2 linked regions of the Homo sapiens genome follow. The protein of the gene in region 1 purifies or fractionates together with the protein of each later gene. This does not show direct contact. Each region holds a gene or a part of one and is shown on either strand. Other genes may lie near its edges. The genes, in order: PFKP and TMPO.

Evidence for each region.
Region 2: the proteins of PFKP (region 1) and TMPO fractionate together in Homo sapiens (co-fractionation; 2 studies listed by BioGRID). This does not show direct contact.

The regions. Positions count from the first base shown.
Region 1 is NC_000010.11:3,062,984-3,070,770, forward strand, and holds the start of PFKP (ATP-dependent 6-phosphofructokinase, platelet type), read left to right. Parts: upstream 1-4,564; 5' UTR 4,565-4,612; coding exon 4,613-4,724; intron 4,725-4,986; exon of another isoform or gene 4,987-5,006; coding exon of another isoform or gene 5,007-5,037; intron 5,038-5,643; exon of another isoform or gene 5,644-5,938; intron 5,939-6,205; exon of another isoform or gene 6,206-6,398; coding exon of another isoform or gene 6,399-6,406; intron 6,407-7,787. Other genes in the region: wiskott-Aldrich syndrome protein family member 1-like, read left to right, coding at 3,720-4,157. UniProt on the Homo sapiens protein: Catalyzes the phosphorylation of D-fructose 6-phosphate to fructose 1,6-bisphosphate by ATP, the first committing step of glycolysis.
Region 2 is NC_000012.12:98,546,571-98,551,116, forward strand, and holds the end of TMPO (thymopoietin), read left to right. Parts: intron 1-1,002; coding exon 1,003-1,288; 3' UTR 1,289-3,781; downstream 3,782-4,546. UniProt on the Homo sapiens protein: May help direct the assembly of the nuclear lamina and thereby help maintain the structural organization of the nuclear envelope. Possible receptor for attachment of lamin filaments to the inner nuclear membrane.

The sequences.
Region 1 (7,787 bases):
ATTCATTCACCCATTCACTCACTCACACATTCACTCACTCACGTTCACTCATTCACCCACTCATTTCACTCACTCATTTACCCACTCACTCACTTACTCCTTCACTCATCCACTCACTCACTCATTCACTGACTCACTCACTCACCCATTCACTCATTTACTCCTTCACTCACTCACTCCATTCATTCAGCAGCACCCATGGCAGGTTCACTCTGTCCTGGGCTCTGCTGTTGCCCTGGGCCTGCAACAGGGAATAGTCAAAGATCTCTGAATCCACAGCATTCAGAGTTCAGCAGGGGGGCCTGTCGAGAAGCCCAGCAGATAGGTGAAATGCCCCACGTGTGACACGCATGAGGCTGTTTTAAGAGAAGCGGGGAGGGAACAGGAGTGTGCATGGAGCCCGAATTTCTAACAGGGTGATCTGGGGAGGCCTCACCATGCAGGAGACCTTGCAGGACAGACCTGAGGAAGGTGGGAAGAGTGGGTAGGGAGAGGAGGGCCCGGGCTGAGGAAAGAGCAGGCTGGGCCTGAGGTTGTCGGGTGCCTGCATGGGTCTCTGGGCAGCACTAGGATCCGATGGACCAGTGGGCCATGTGTGGGGCCTGTGACTCCCAAGTCAGCAGAGGAGATGCCTGAATTACATCCTGATAGGTGCACCCTGACTTTGAAGCTGAGGACACCCGAGGCATGGAGGTGGGGTGGAGGTGGGGGCAGAGCAGGGGATGGGGAGGGAGCCTGTGTCAGTCCAGGTCACAGGTGGTAGCTTGGCCCCAGTGGCTCCAGATGCAATGAAGAGCCAGGAGGGACCTTCCTGAGAGACTTGGATGCCAGGGTAGAGGAGCACTGCAAGGCTTCAGCCTGAGACCCTGGGAGGATGGGGTCACCAGGAGCTGAGGTGAGGAAGACCGAGGGGTGGGGGGTTGCGTGGGGGTGCAGAGGCCTAAGCTCAGTTTGGCCCCTGCAGATTTGAGATGCCTACTCCATGCACAGGCAGAAACAGCAGGGGAAGGGAAGAGGCTGCAGCTCAGGTAGCCCTGGTGGTGGAATGTGCAGCCCAACATGCCGGAACACAGGGTTATGGTGCCCTCATGGCTAGGAGCTGCTTTCCTCCTGGGATGGCAGGACTCCTTTAGGGCACATGGGCAGCTCCTGCGCTCACCGCAGAGGGGAAGTGGGAAGGGCATCTGTCCCTATGCATGTTCTCCTTCACCTTGTCCTAGGCAGGTCCCAGGCAGCACCTCCCCTCCCAGTGGCTCCCCGTGGCCCCTGCCCCTAGTGTTCACAGCCAGATCCTCGAAGAGGGCTGGACTCCGTTGCTCACTTCTAATGAACAGAATCAGGCAAAAGAGACGGCGGTCTTTCCTGAGATTGGATTGGGAAGGGCTGCAGGTTCCGTCCACTGGAATTCTCCCCCTGGCTCTTGACATGTGCTAGTTCTGGCAAAGCCAGTCACCTGCCCAGGGCAGAGGGCAGCCTGAAGCTGATGCCAGGGACAGACTGGGGCCTTCAGTCCAACAGCCTGCAAGCAACAGAATCCTGCCAGCAACACAGGAGTGAGCGTGGAAGCAGCTCCTCCCATGATGAGCCTGAGCCTTCAGAAGACACTGTAGCCCTGGGCAGACACCTGTTGCAGCCACAGAGGGCCCCTGGGGCAGAGGGCCCAGTGAAGCCTGTCTGAACTCCTGGTCCAAGGAGTAATCATTCCTGTGGTATAAGTGTGTGCTGGTGTGGGCCACAGTTTGCAGTAATCTGTCAAGGGACAATAAAGAACAAACACACATGTCAGGTCCTACTGGGTGGAAGCCGTACAGTCAACAAGGCATGCAGTATCTTCCTCTTGAATTAGAAGATTCATTGCTCAGGCCAAAGATTAAACAACAAAAAAAAAATCTCTAGTTGTAGCACCATTAAAATACACGACTTGCAAAAAAAAAAAAAAAAAAAAAAAAAAAAAAGAGCCATAGCTATGCTTTTCCATCTTAGCTACAGGTATATATAAATATATGTTAATTCCTTGACTGACTGAGCAATGGGTCAAACTCATGAGAATAGATGTGTGAGGACGGTCAGTGACCACCCTGACCCCAGCCCTTACATACAGACAAACTTTTGAACATAATCCATAACCCTGGGGATCTGGACACTCTAAATTTTATTGTTTTTAATTAACTATTTCTATTCCCCAAACAATACCTGTTCATTGGAGAGAAAAATGGCATTACCTATACTAAGCAAAAGAAAGGAAATAAAATGCTCAGAAACATTTACGTGTGTGCACACTCACACACACACTTACACGCACACGTGCGCACATGCAAGCACAGGCTCACACTGTGTCCAGGCCTGCCTTTTCATTTATTTGTTTGACCTGAACATATTTCCATGTCAGTCGACACTTATCTTCGTAGTGGTAACAGCAATTAAATATTATCGCAGCGTATATTTTTAACCATCATTTATTTAACTCGTCATGTTTGAACTGTTAGGTTGTATTTATCGTTTTCTGTATTACAGACGACTTGATGACAAATGACCAATCCTCTAATGTTCAATATAAAAATATCAATTGCATAAGGAGATAAGGGGCATTTGGCTAAAATAAAATTCAGTGTGCCCCACCCTCTCCACATGTAATTTGCTCTAAAAAGGCATGAATGACTAAATTAGCCCTTCTATTCTCCAGCGCAGCTCCTGAGCCCAGCGGTGGGTGCAGGTGCTTAGAGCCTGGCTCTGCTCTTCTGCCGCCAGAAGGCGAAGGGCACCCAACCCAGGATTCTCCTCTCCTTTTTTATTAATAGAAGAGTGCTCAGGCTCAGTGCATGAGAGCAGCGCTCTCTGACTTTGCACTTATCAGAGTAACCTAGGGGGCTTGTTTAAAAATACACATTCCCTGGCTGAGCTCCCAGAAATTGGACTTCAGTGGTTTAGCGGGAGTGTGCATAGGCCAGGTGATTCTGAGGACCAACAGGGGTTAGGAATTGCCCCGTTAATTCTGGCCAAGGGAGAGATCAGACCATCCAGCATTGTCCGCAGCAGAGTTTTTCCCCCTCTTTTGCAATGAATATTTGATGCTCAGAGGGATGAGCCCCAGGATGAGGCACACATCCAAGAAAAATCCATGCCTCTCCATCTTTTCCCCAGGATTGCCCTAAGGCGAGCCGCTCTTTGTGATTCCTTCACTTTCCCCGGTTCATAGAACAGGCCTCTTCTTAGTCTGTTTTGTTGTCTCTTATCTGTTCAACAAACACCCACTGCGCAGGACCATCCTCCGGTGAGCCGTCGAGTGGGGCCGTTTGGGAGCCCTTCTTCGTGGGTGAGCACTGAAGGAACCCGGGTCCCATAAGCCCGTGCTTCTATGGGGGCTGCCCCCTCTCCCATCGCAGGGTAACTGGCACCAGGCTGTTAAGCTGTGGATGGGCAACCGCACAGTGCATTGGATGTGAGTATTTCAGTACGTGGAGCTGGCCAGTGGAGCCGGCCGAGGTCAGGCAGAGCGTACAGCAGCGCGCGTGTCCGTGGGGAGGGAGGGTCCTCCCGCCTCCCCGCCTCCCCGCCAGGCCAGTCCTGTTGCGCCTCCTCCTGCCCCACTCTGACTTTCCAGCGCCCAGGCCGGGGCGCCGCCAGGGCGTCTCTGAGGGTCGCGCCCCGATACCTTCCTCCACCCCACGGCTTCTTCCCCCCAAGGGCGGGGCTGGGGGCCCAGGAGCACCACAGCCCCCATGGGCCCGGGAAATGGCAGCTTCGTCATGGCCCAGCCCGCCACGCTCACCTTTTCCCACCACCTGGAGGATCCACTCTCCGTCCGTCCTTCCCGACCTCAGGCTGCAGAGGAAACCTGGGGGCGGGGGTCGAGGAAGCCGAGCCCCGAGGCTCCCAGCGCCGCCCCAGGAGGAATCTTGCGGGCCACTAGAAGCTGTGCGCGCGGCCGGGCTCGGCCCCCACAACGGCCCGAGCGGCCGGGCCTGCCGCGAGCCTCCGCGTCCAGGTGGGGTCTCCGCGCCCCCATTCCACCCCTCCCCGCCATCGGCGCTCCCCGCAACTGCGGGGTTTCCACCCGCCCCGGCGCTCGCGCCCACTCACGGTCTCCCTCGCCCCCCCGGGAGATGCTCCCGGCGTTCTATCCCGCCCCGCCCTGGCGCGCCCCGCAAACGATGTGACCCCGGCCCCCTGCGGTCTCCCCTCCTCCGGACGCTGCCCCTGCCCCACCTGTGGCGCTCCCGTCATCTCTAGAGCCCCCAACCAGAGTCCTCCAGCCCACCCGCGAGGCTCGCGCACCTGCGATGCGGCCCCACTAGCAGGGACCCGCCCACCTGTGGCGCTACCCCTGCCTCTGCCGCCTCCCGCACCGCTAGCGCGGCCCCCACCTACGACGACCCCCGCGTAGATGCTCCTGCCCACACCCGCCCCAGCCCCGGCCCCTGCCCCTAGCCGCGCCCGCGCCCCCTCCCCCGCAGCCCCTCCCATACGCTCGGGCCCCGCCCGTCACCGCCCATTGGCGCTGGGGCCGGGCGGGGGCGCGGGCGGGGCGGCGGTTCCGAGTCAGGCGCGCGCGGGCAGGGTCCCCATTGCCTGCTGCGCACCCGGACGTGCGGCTCCCCTCGGCCTCCTCGCCATGGACGCGGACGACTCCCGGGCCCCCAAGGGCTCCTTGCGGAAGTTCCTGGAGCACCTCTCCGGGGCCGGCAAGGCCATCGGCGTGCTGACCAGCGGCGGGGATGCTCAAGGTGCGCGCCCCCCTCCCGGCGGCGAGGGAGGGACGGACGGACGGAGCTGGGGAGAACCGGGCGAAGGCGATGGGGTGACCGGAGAGAAGAGGGGGGAAGCGATGGGGGGGACCCGGGGAAAGGTGGCGAAGCGATGGGGAGAACCGGGGAGAAGAGCGGGGAAGCGATGGGGAGAACCGGGAAGAAGCCCGCGCCCGGAAGCGGCAGGGGTACCTGCGGGGCGGCATGAGCCGGCGAGGCAGCCCCGGGGTCCTTGCCCGGTGGGGCGGGGGAGGAAGGGACATGGCGGTAGGAACCTCCATCCGGAAGATCAGTGAGTTTTCCACCTTCGGTTTTGTTTTAAATGGAACCTGGCAGAGGGAGTCGCCTGAAGCGCCCTCGGGGGTCGTTCTGCCTCTGAGCTGTAGGACGGGGCCGGGCGTCCCCTCCGAAGCGTGGGTACAGCGCGATCACTTCCTAAGTGCCCCCCCGCCCCCCAACTCCGCCGCACGCCACCCCCTAGAATGTCGAGGAAGAAACGGCTGGGTCCCCGCGCGCCTCCTGTCGCCTCGTGCCCTGCGCGGCGTGGGCGGGGTCCTGGCTGCTGCAATGCGGGACGCGGCGGGGGTGCGCGGGGTTCCCGCCTGGCGTCTCCAGGGCGGTCCGGCAGCCCCTCGCGTTTCCGCTGGGAGATTTTTAAAAAGGGTTTCCTGCGCTCGCATGTGCTGTCGCCTTCCGGCTCGTGACAAAAACGAAAACCAAAATGGGTCCCAGGCCCTCCCCGCCAGCCTCCGCAGACGGGAAGGATCAGGAAGCGGGGACTCCGGGATGTCAGCGGCGCCGCGGCGCGGGCTCCGGGCTTCCCTGCCCTGCAATGTGGAAGCTGCTCTCTAGGAGGGGCCCGAGGCTGGGCCCACGGACGCGGGCGCGCCGGGAGGATATTTAACATTGAAGAGCGGAAGGTGGCGGAGACTCGGCGCGCCCCAGGCCCCGGGTGCACGTGGGGGCGCCGGTGCCCGGATGATGGAGTGTCCCGATCCGTGCAATCCCTGGCGGGTAGATCGGCGCTTCCCAGGCGAACGCAACCTGGGAGCCTTAGCGATCGCGCAGGCTGGAGACGCGGCGCGCCCCGAGCTGGGTTTTGATTTTTGTTTTCCCGGTTCCTCCTGCCGCAGATGCGTGGAAAGGCCCGGATGGCGGATTTCCTCCCGTTTCGGGGCCGCGCACTGCACAGGGTTGGAGCGGGGATGCACCCCCTGCCCACTGCGCGGGTGACCTTCCCTTCGCCCTTGAGCGCGCGGGGCGGGCGCGGGTGCCGCAGGTTGAGGCGCTGTGGGCGCCGCCCCGCCCGCCACGAGCGCCTACGTGATGCCCGGCCCGTCGTCTCCACGAGCCCCGGCCCCGACACCCGTGCGCCGCGCGCTCCCCAGGCCCGCAGCGCAGCCTCCCCAGGCCCAGCGCCCCCCGCGGGAGACCCGGGTGGCAGCGCCAGGCCCCGCCCCGCAGCCCGCCCTGCAGCGCCCCCGGGAAGTGCTCTGGCGTTAGCATTCCAGTAAAAGGACCCCAGCATCAACGTTCTTCCTGCAGGGCTGGGTTCTCAGAGAAAGAAAACGTGATGCAGCAGAGGATGGGATTGAAGAAACAGGAGAGTGAAGTGGAAATAGCCTGGCCCGCGTGACTTAAACCGGCCCGGAGATGTGCGGGTACGAATGGAGCCGCCTTGGGGTCGGGATAGGACCCAGAGTGGCTTCTCAGTCAAAGGCCTTCAGAAGCAGAGGGAGCACCTTGAGTGACCTTACCTGGGCCGCGAAAGACAAGAAACCTTTGGCACAGGAAGAGGAACTGATCTCTGGAAGCCACCAGGGCGGGTGGAAAGTCAGGGTTTCAAGGTTATTTTGGAATTTAGGTGCTGTGGGCCTTGTACGGTGGCTCATGCTTGTCATCCCAGTGCTTTGGGAGGCCGAGGCAGGAGGCTCGCTTGAGCCGAGGAGTTCCAGAGCATCCTGGGCAACATAGTGAGACTCTGTGTCTACAAAAAAAAAGAAAGAAAAAAAATTAAGATACTGCATGTATTGGAAAATATTTATGGGTCATTCCTTTGAGCTCCATGTCCAAAAGCTTGCTAAAATGCGCGGGAGTTTGTGTACAGGCATGTGAGATTAGGATACATTGGCAGAATCGCGGTGTTCTCTGTTACCCTGGTTTTGCCACCTGGGAGGAGTTAGACATATTGAAGGTTAGTAAGTCCACGCCTCTTCTTTTCTGGGGAAAATGATACTTTGGAAACCAATATTATGTGGGGAACGCGGCTTGGTTGCTGCAACCTCGGGTTAATAGGAGACAGCTGCCCTCAGCTCTGCAGGTGGCATCAAATATGGTGGCCTCGAGCCCACATGGGTCACACCTGGGCTGTCCCTGGGGAAGCCCGCCATGGCGGGTCGCCTGGGCACTCTTTCCCTGGCAGAGCTGAAGTCACAATTTTTTTGTAGACTCTGTAAAGAGCTTTACCCTTCGGTGATACGATCTTGAACCTGTTGGAGCATTTGGACGCATTTCTTTTAAGGAAGTTCACCTCCAGATGTACTCAGAGGGCCTGGTCTTAGCTGCCACAGATTTACAAACCCTTACAGTAAGTAGGTTATTCCTCGAGAATATCTCAGTGTCCCCATTCTTTTACCATTTTATTCTGATTCTATGTTAGTACTTGATTTTCCCTGACATAGAAGACTATTGCTTGTAGCTAGAGATGAGAGAACATATTCACATTCACGTATTAATTTCAGGGGAATTTTCTGTCAGATGTGAAATTATGGTAAAATTCCGTATATTAAGATGATCATAGCTACCATTTGTTGAAAACATTTTGTATTCTAAGAGCTTTACACTTCTTATCTCCAAGCCTAAATACATGATCCCAAGAGAGGCGTGTCCTCATTTTGGAAGTGGGGAGAAAGACTCAGAAAGAAAAGTAAGTTAGGTAAGGGCATGAGGTGCATACGTGATTGTGATAGGAGCAAAACAGATCTTAATTCCAAATATTGTACTCTCCCGTAGACCACGAAGAGTACTTATGTCTGGCTGTGT
Region 2 (4,546 bases), on another chromosome or scaffold:
ATGGTACATGCCTGTAGTCCCAGCTACTCAAGAGACTAAGGCAGGTGGATTGCTTAAGCCCAGGAGTTCGAGACCAGTCTGGGCAACATAATGAGACTCTGTCTACCCACCGACTTTTAAATAAATAAGTGAACGAACTGTTCTTTTGGGAGCAGTTTAATTCCCCTAAGCCCACCAGTAAATATTCTTGAAAGTTGAATGAGTTTCAAAATTGCGATTGGTAAATGGAGGATTTTAAATAAATCACTTACTTACTACTTAAATTCATATGTTAAAATCTAAACGAAAATCTAGTGAGAAATAGTTTTTCCCCCCTAAGTTTCTCTTTTCTAATTGAAAAGGCTGTGTTTATGTATCTTAATTTTTAACTGAAAGAAACACAGCCAAAACTGTTTTGTTTTTCCTCTTTACTCCTAAACATGAGCTTTGAAGAGCCTTTAAGAAGGCAGGTTTAGTGACTATTTATCAGTGTTCTGAATATTCTTTTCTAATAAAGGATGCATCGAACTTTTTTTTTTTTTTTGAGACGGAGTTTTGCTCTGTTGCCCAGGCTGGAGTACAGTGGCGTGATCTCGGCTCACTACAACCTCCACCTCCTGGGTTCAAGCGATTCTCCTGCCTCAGCCTCCTGAGTAGCTGGGATTACAGGCACCCACCATCATGCCCGGCTAATTTTTGTATTTTTGTAGAGACAGAGTTTCACCATGTTGGCCAGGCTAGTCTTGAACTCCTGACCTCAGGTGATCTGCCCGCCTTGGCCTCCCAAAGTGCTGGGATTGCAGGCGCGAGCCACCATGCCCAGCCCATCTAACTTTTAAAATAGAAAATATGTAGAAGTTTTAAATAGGTTGACTGACCTCACTGCTTTATATGTATCAATTTTCTACTGTTACCTCAGGGAATGTGCTTGGAATTAGGAGTGGCAATGACATTTTATGTTATTTCTCTAAATCATGCCTTTATCTAAAATTATTTTTCTTTTCCTCCTTTCACTCCCAACAGTGCTAGTTGCCGCAGACCAATCAAAGGGGCTGCAGGCCGGCCATTAGAACTCAGTGATTTCAGGATGGAGGAGTCTTTTTCATCTAAATATGTTCCTAAGTATGTTCCCTTGGCAGATGTCAAGTCAGAAAAGACAAAAAAGGGACGCTCCATTCCCGTATGGATAAAAATTTTGCTGTTTGTTGTTGTGGCAGTTTTTTTGTTTTTGGTCTATCAAGCTATGGAAACCAACCAAGTAAATCCCTTCTCTAATTTTCTTCATGTTGACCCTAGAAAATCCAACTGAATGGTATCTCTTTGGCACGTTCAACTTGGTCTCCTATTTTCAATAACTGTTGAAAAACATTTGTGTACACTTGTTGACTCCAAGAACTAAAAATAATGTGATTTCGCCTCAATAAATGTAGTATTTCATTGAAAAGCAAACAAAATATATATAAATGGACTTCATTAAAATGTTTTTGAACTTTGGACTAGTAGGAGATCACTTTGTGCCATATGAATAATCTTTTTTAGCTCTGGAACTTTTTGTAGGCTTTATTTTTTTAATGTGGGCATCTTATTTCATTTTTGAAAAAATGTATATGTTTTTTGTGTATTTGGGAAACGAAGGGTGAAACATGGTAGTATAATGTGAAGCTACACATTTAAATACTTAGAATTCTTACAGAAAAGATTTTAAGAATTATTCTCTGCTGAATAAAAACTGCAAATATGTGAAACATAATGAAATTCAGTAAGAGGAAAAGTAACTTGGTTGTACTTTTTGTAACTGCAACAAAGTTTGATGGTGTTTATGAGGAAAAGTACAGCAATAATCTCTTCTGTAACCTTTATTAATAGTAATGTTGTTGTAGCCCTATCATACTCACTTTTTAAGACACAGTATCATGAAAGTCCTATTTCAGTAAGACCCATTTACATACAGTAGATTTTTAGCAGAGATCTTTTAGTGTAACATACATATTTTAGAGAATTGTTGGCTAGCTGTACATGTTTTGAAAAGCTGTTTAGCTAGCTATAAGGCTATAATTGGAAATTTGTATTTTTTATTTACAGCAAAACATTTATTCAGTCATCCAGTTTGCTACCAAAATATGTTTTAGATAAGTGTGTGTATGTTTGTTTAGAAGTTAGAAATTGTAAACACTGGTCTTATGTTTCATTTGGATTCATTATTGCATTGTCTTGTTACCAGAAACAAATTTTGCCGAGCTTTTTTTGCCCTATATTTCCCAGCATAATTTGATTAGAAAGTACAAAAAGGGCCAGGCGCGGTGGCTTACGCCTGTAATCCCAGCACTTTGGGAGGCCAGGGCGGGTGGATCACGAGGTCAAGAGATCAAGACCATCCTGGCCAACATGGTGAAACCCCGTCTCTACTAAAAATACAAAAAAATTAGCTGGGCGTGATGATGTGCGCCTGTAGTCCTGTCTACTAGGGAGACTGAGGCAGGAGAATCGTTTGAACCCAGGAGGCAGAGGTTGCAGTGAGCAGAGATTACGTCACTGCACTGTAGCCTGGCGACAGAGCAAGACTCCATCTCAAAAAAAATAAAAAAGTACAAAAAGTACTTGCTTTTATATTACATCATAAGCAGTAGTTAATAAAGTTGTATACTCTTAAGAGGTGGGCATTATGATTATTTTTTATTTTTTTATTTTTTATGAGATGGAGTCTCACTCTTGTCACCCAGACTGTAGTGCAGTGGCACGATCTGGGCTCGATGCAACCTCTGCCTCCCAGGTTCAAGCAATTTTCCTGCCTCGGCAGAGACGGGGTTTCACCATGTTGGCCAGGCTGGTCTCGAACCCCTGACCTCAAGTGATCAGCCCACCTCAGCTTCCCAAAGTGCTGGGATTACAGGTGTGATCCACTGCACCCGGCCGGCATTATGATTTTGTGTACTCTTGAAATGGTTATCTTTGTGGATGATTTTTTTTTTTAAGCTGAAACTTACCTCATGAATAACTTGATTAAAGTAGTAGGTGATTAAAATTTCAATAGAATCAAATGAGACAAAAATTTTAAACTGACTCATTTGAGTTTCAACTTTACAGTCATTGACCATAAAGCACACTAAAAATGTAAGTTATTTTTAAATACATCTGAAATAAAAATACTTACTAAAAAGGAAGAAGCCGAAGATGTATATTTAGACCAGCACACAATTTTGATTTCAATTAGCCTTATTCTAATATTTAGCTTTTAGATCTTTCATACACATTTTCACGTACTTTGCAATTGAGACCAGAAAGACTTGTAGGTCTTTCTGCAGAATGAGTGGGTCCTTGCAAAGTGAGTGGGAAACTTACTCCTAGATCAGAAATGTTTGCCTCTCTGAGTAAAATGTTTCTTTCAGATGAGCCATAGAGGGGGCACCTTTTACTCAACTTTTCTTTGTTTTGAAACTTTGTTTCCCATACTGTTTTCAGCCTTTTGTTTATAATTAGAAATTGTGAGAAGCTTCATTTAGTGTTTAAAAATGTGGGGAGATAAATCAGACTTAACATGTATGTAAGATCAATTCACTTAAAAGTATGGTCCAAATAGCAAAAATAGGACCAGGTGAAACATGTAGTCATTTTTTAAAAACATGTACTTGGTCTTTTGTGTGTGTCTGTTTTATTCCATTAGAATAAATGTGTCCTTGATGTAAATGCAAAGCATTTCTTCCTGATTAAATTGTAGATGTAGACTTTACAATATAATTCAATAATAAAAAGTAATTAACCTCTAGTTTTGTCGTTGCAATAAATGGTTTTCAGATAGCACAAACTGTGATTTCTGGATAACATTTCTTATGTGATATTTATGGATTATTGTGTTTTATTTCAGTCTGTTCATATGTTTTACTTCTTATTGTAATCGGGTTCTCGTTTATTCAAAGGTAAGCAATGTGTAGCTACTGTACTCACAGAATGACATTAAGCGCTCCAAGGCACCTCTCCCACACCTAGTTCCTTTTTCCCACCACTTTTACTGTCTTTAGTATTTACCTATGACCCTTATGATTGTTAGTCTTGCTTTGAGACTAAGCCCGTGTCACTGTGATACGTCATGGAGCTGTGCTCACAAGATGAAAGTGCCATTATGTCTTCCTCATTCATGTGTCCCCAGAGGTGATTTGACTTAAATTAGTGTTTCTCAAGGTAGTATAGACACCATAATTAATTATAAGGCAAATCGCATCAAAGGCTTAAAACAACAAGTTTTATTGCATGCTTACCATGTGCTAGGTACTTTTCTATGTGCTTAATATGTATTGATTCACTCAATCCTCACGATAATCCTATGGAGTAGGCATTTTCGTAATATCATTACAAATGAGGAAACTGATGGTTAGAGGTGTTAGGAAGCTTCTTCATGTTTGCACACAGCTGAGAAGTGATGGCTCTGGTTGCATATAATATGGCAGAGGGAACCTAAAACAAACAATTCTCTGTTTACATGCTTTAAACCAGTTCTGTGTTCAGCCCTGCTCCTTTCACAACTTTGGTGGTGCCTTCTGAGTTTCAAACCTCTGAAGCGTTCTTTTGGGTA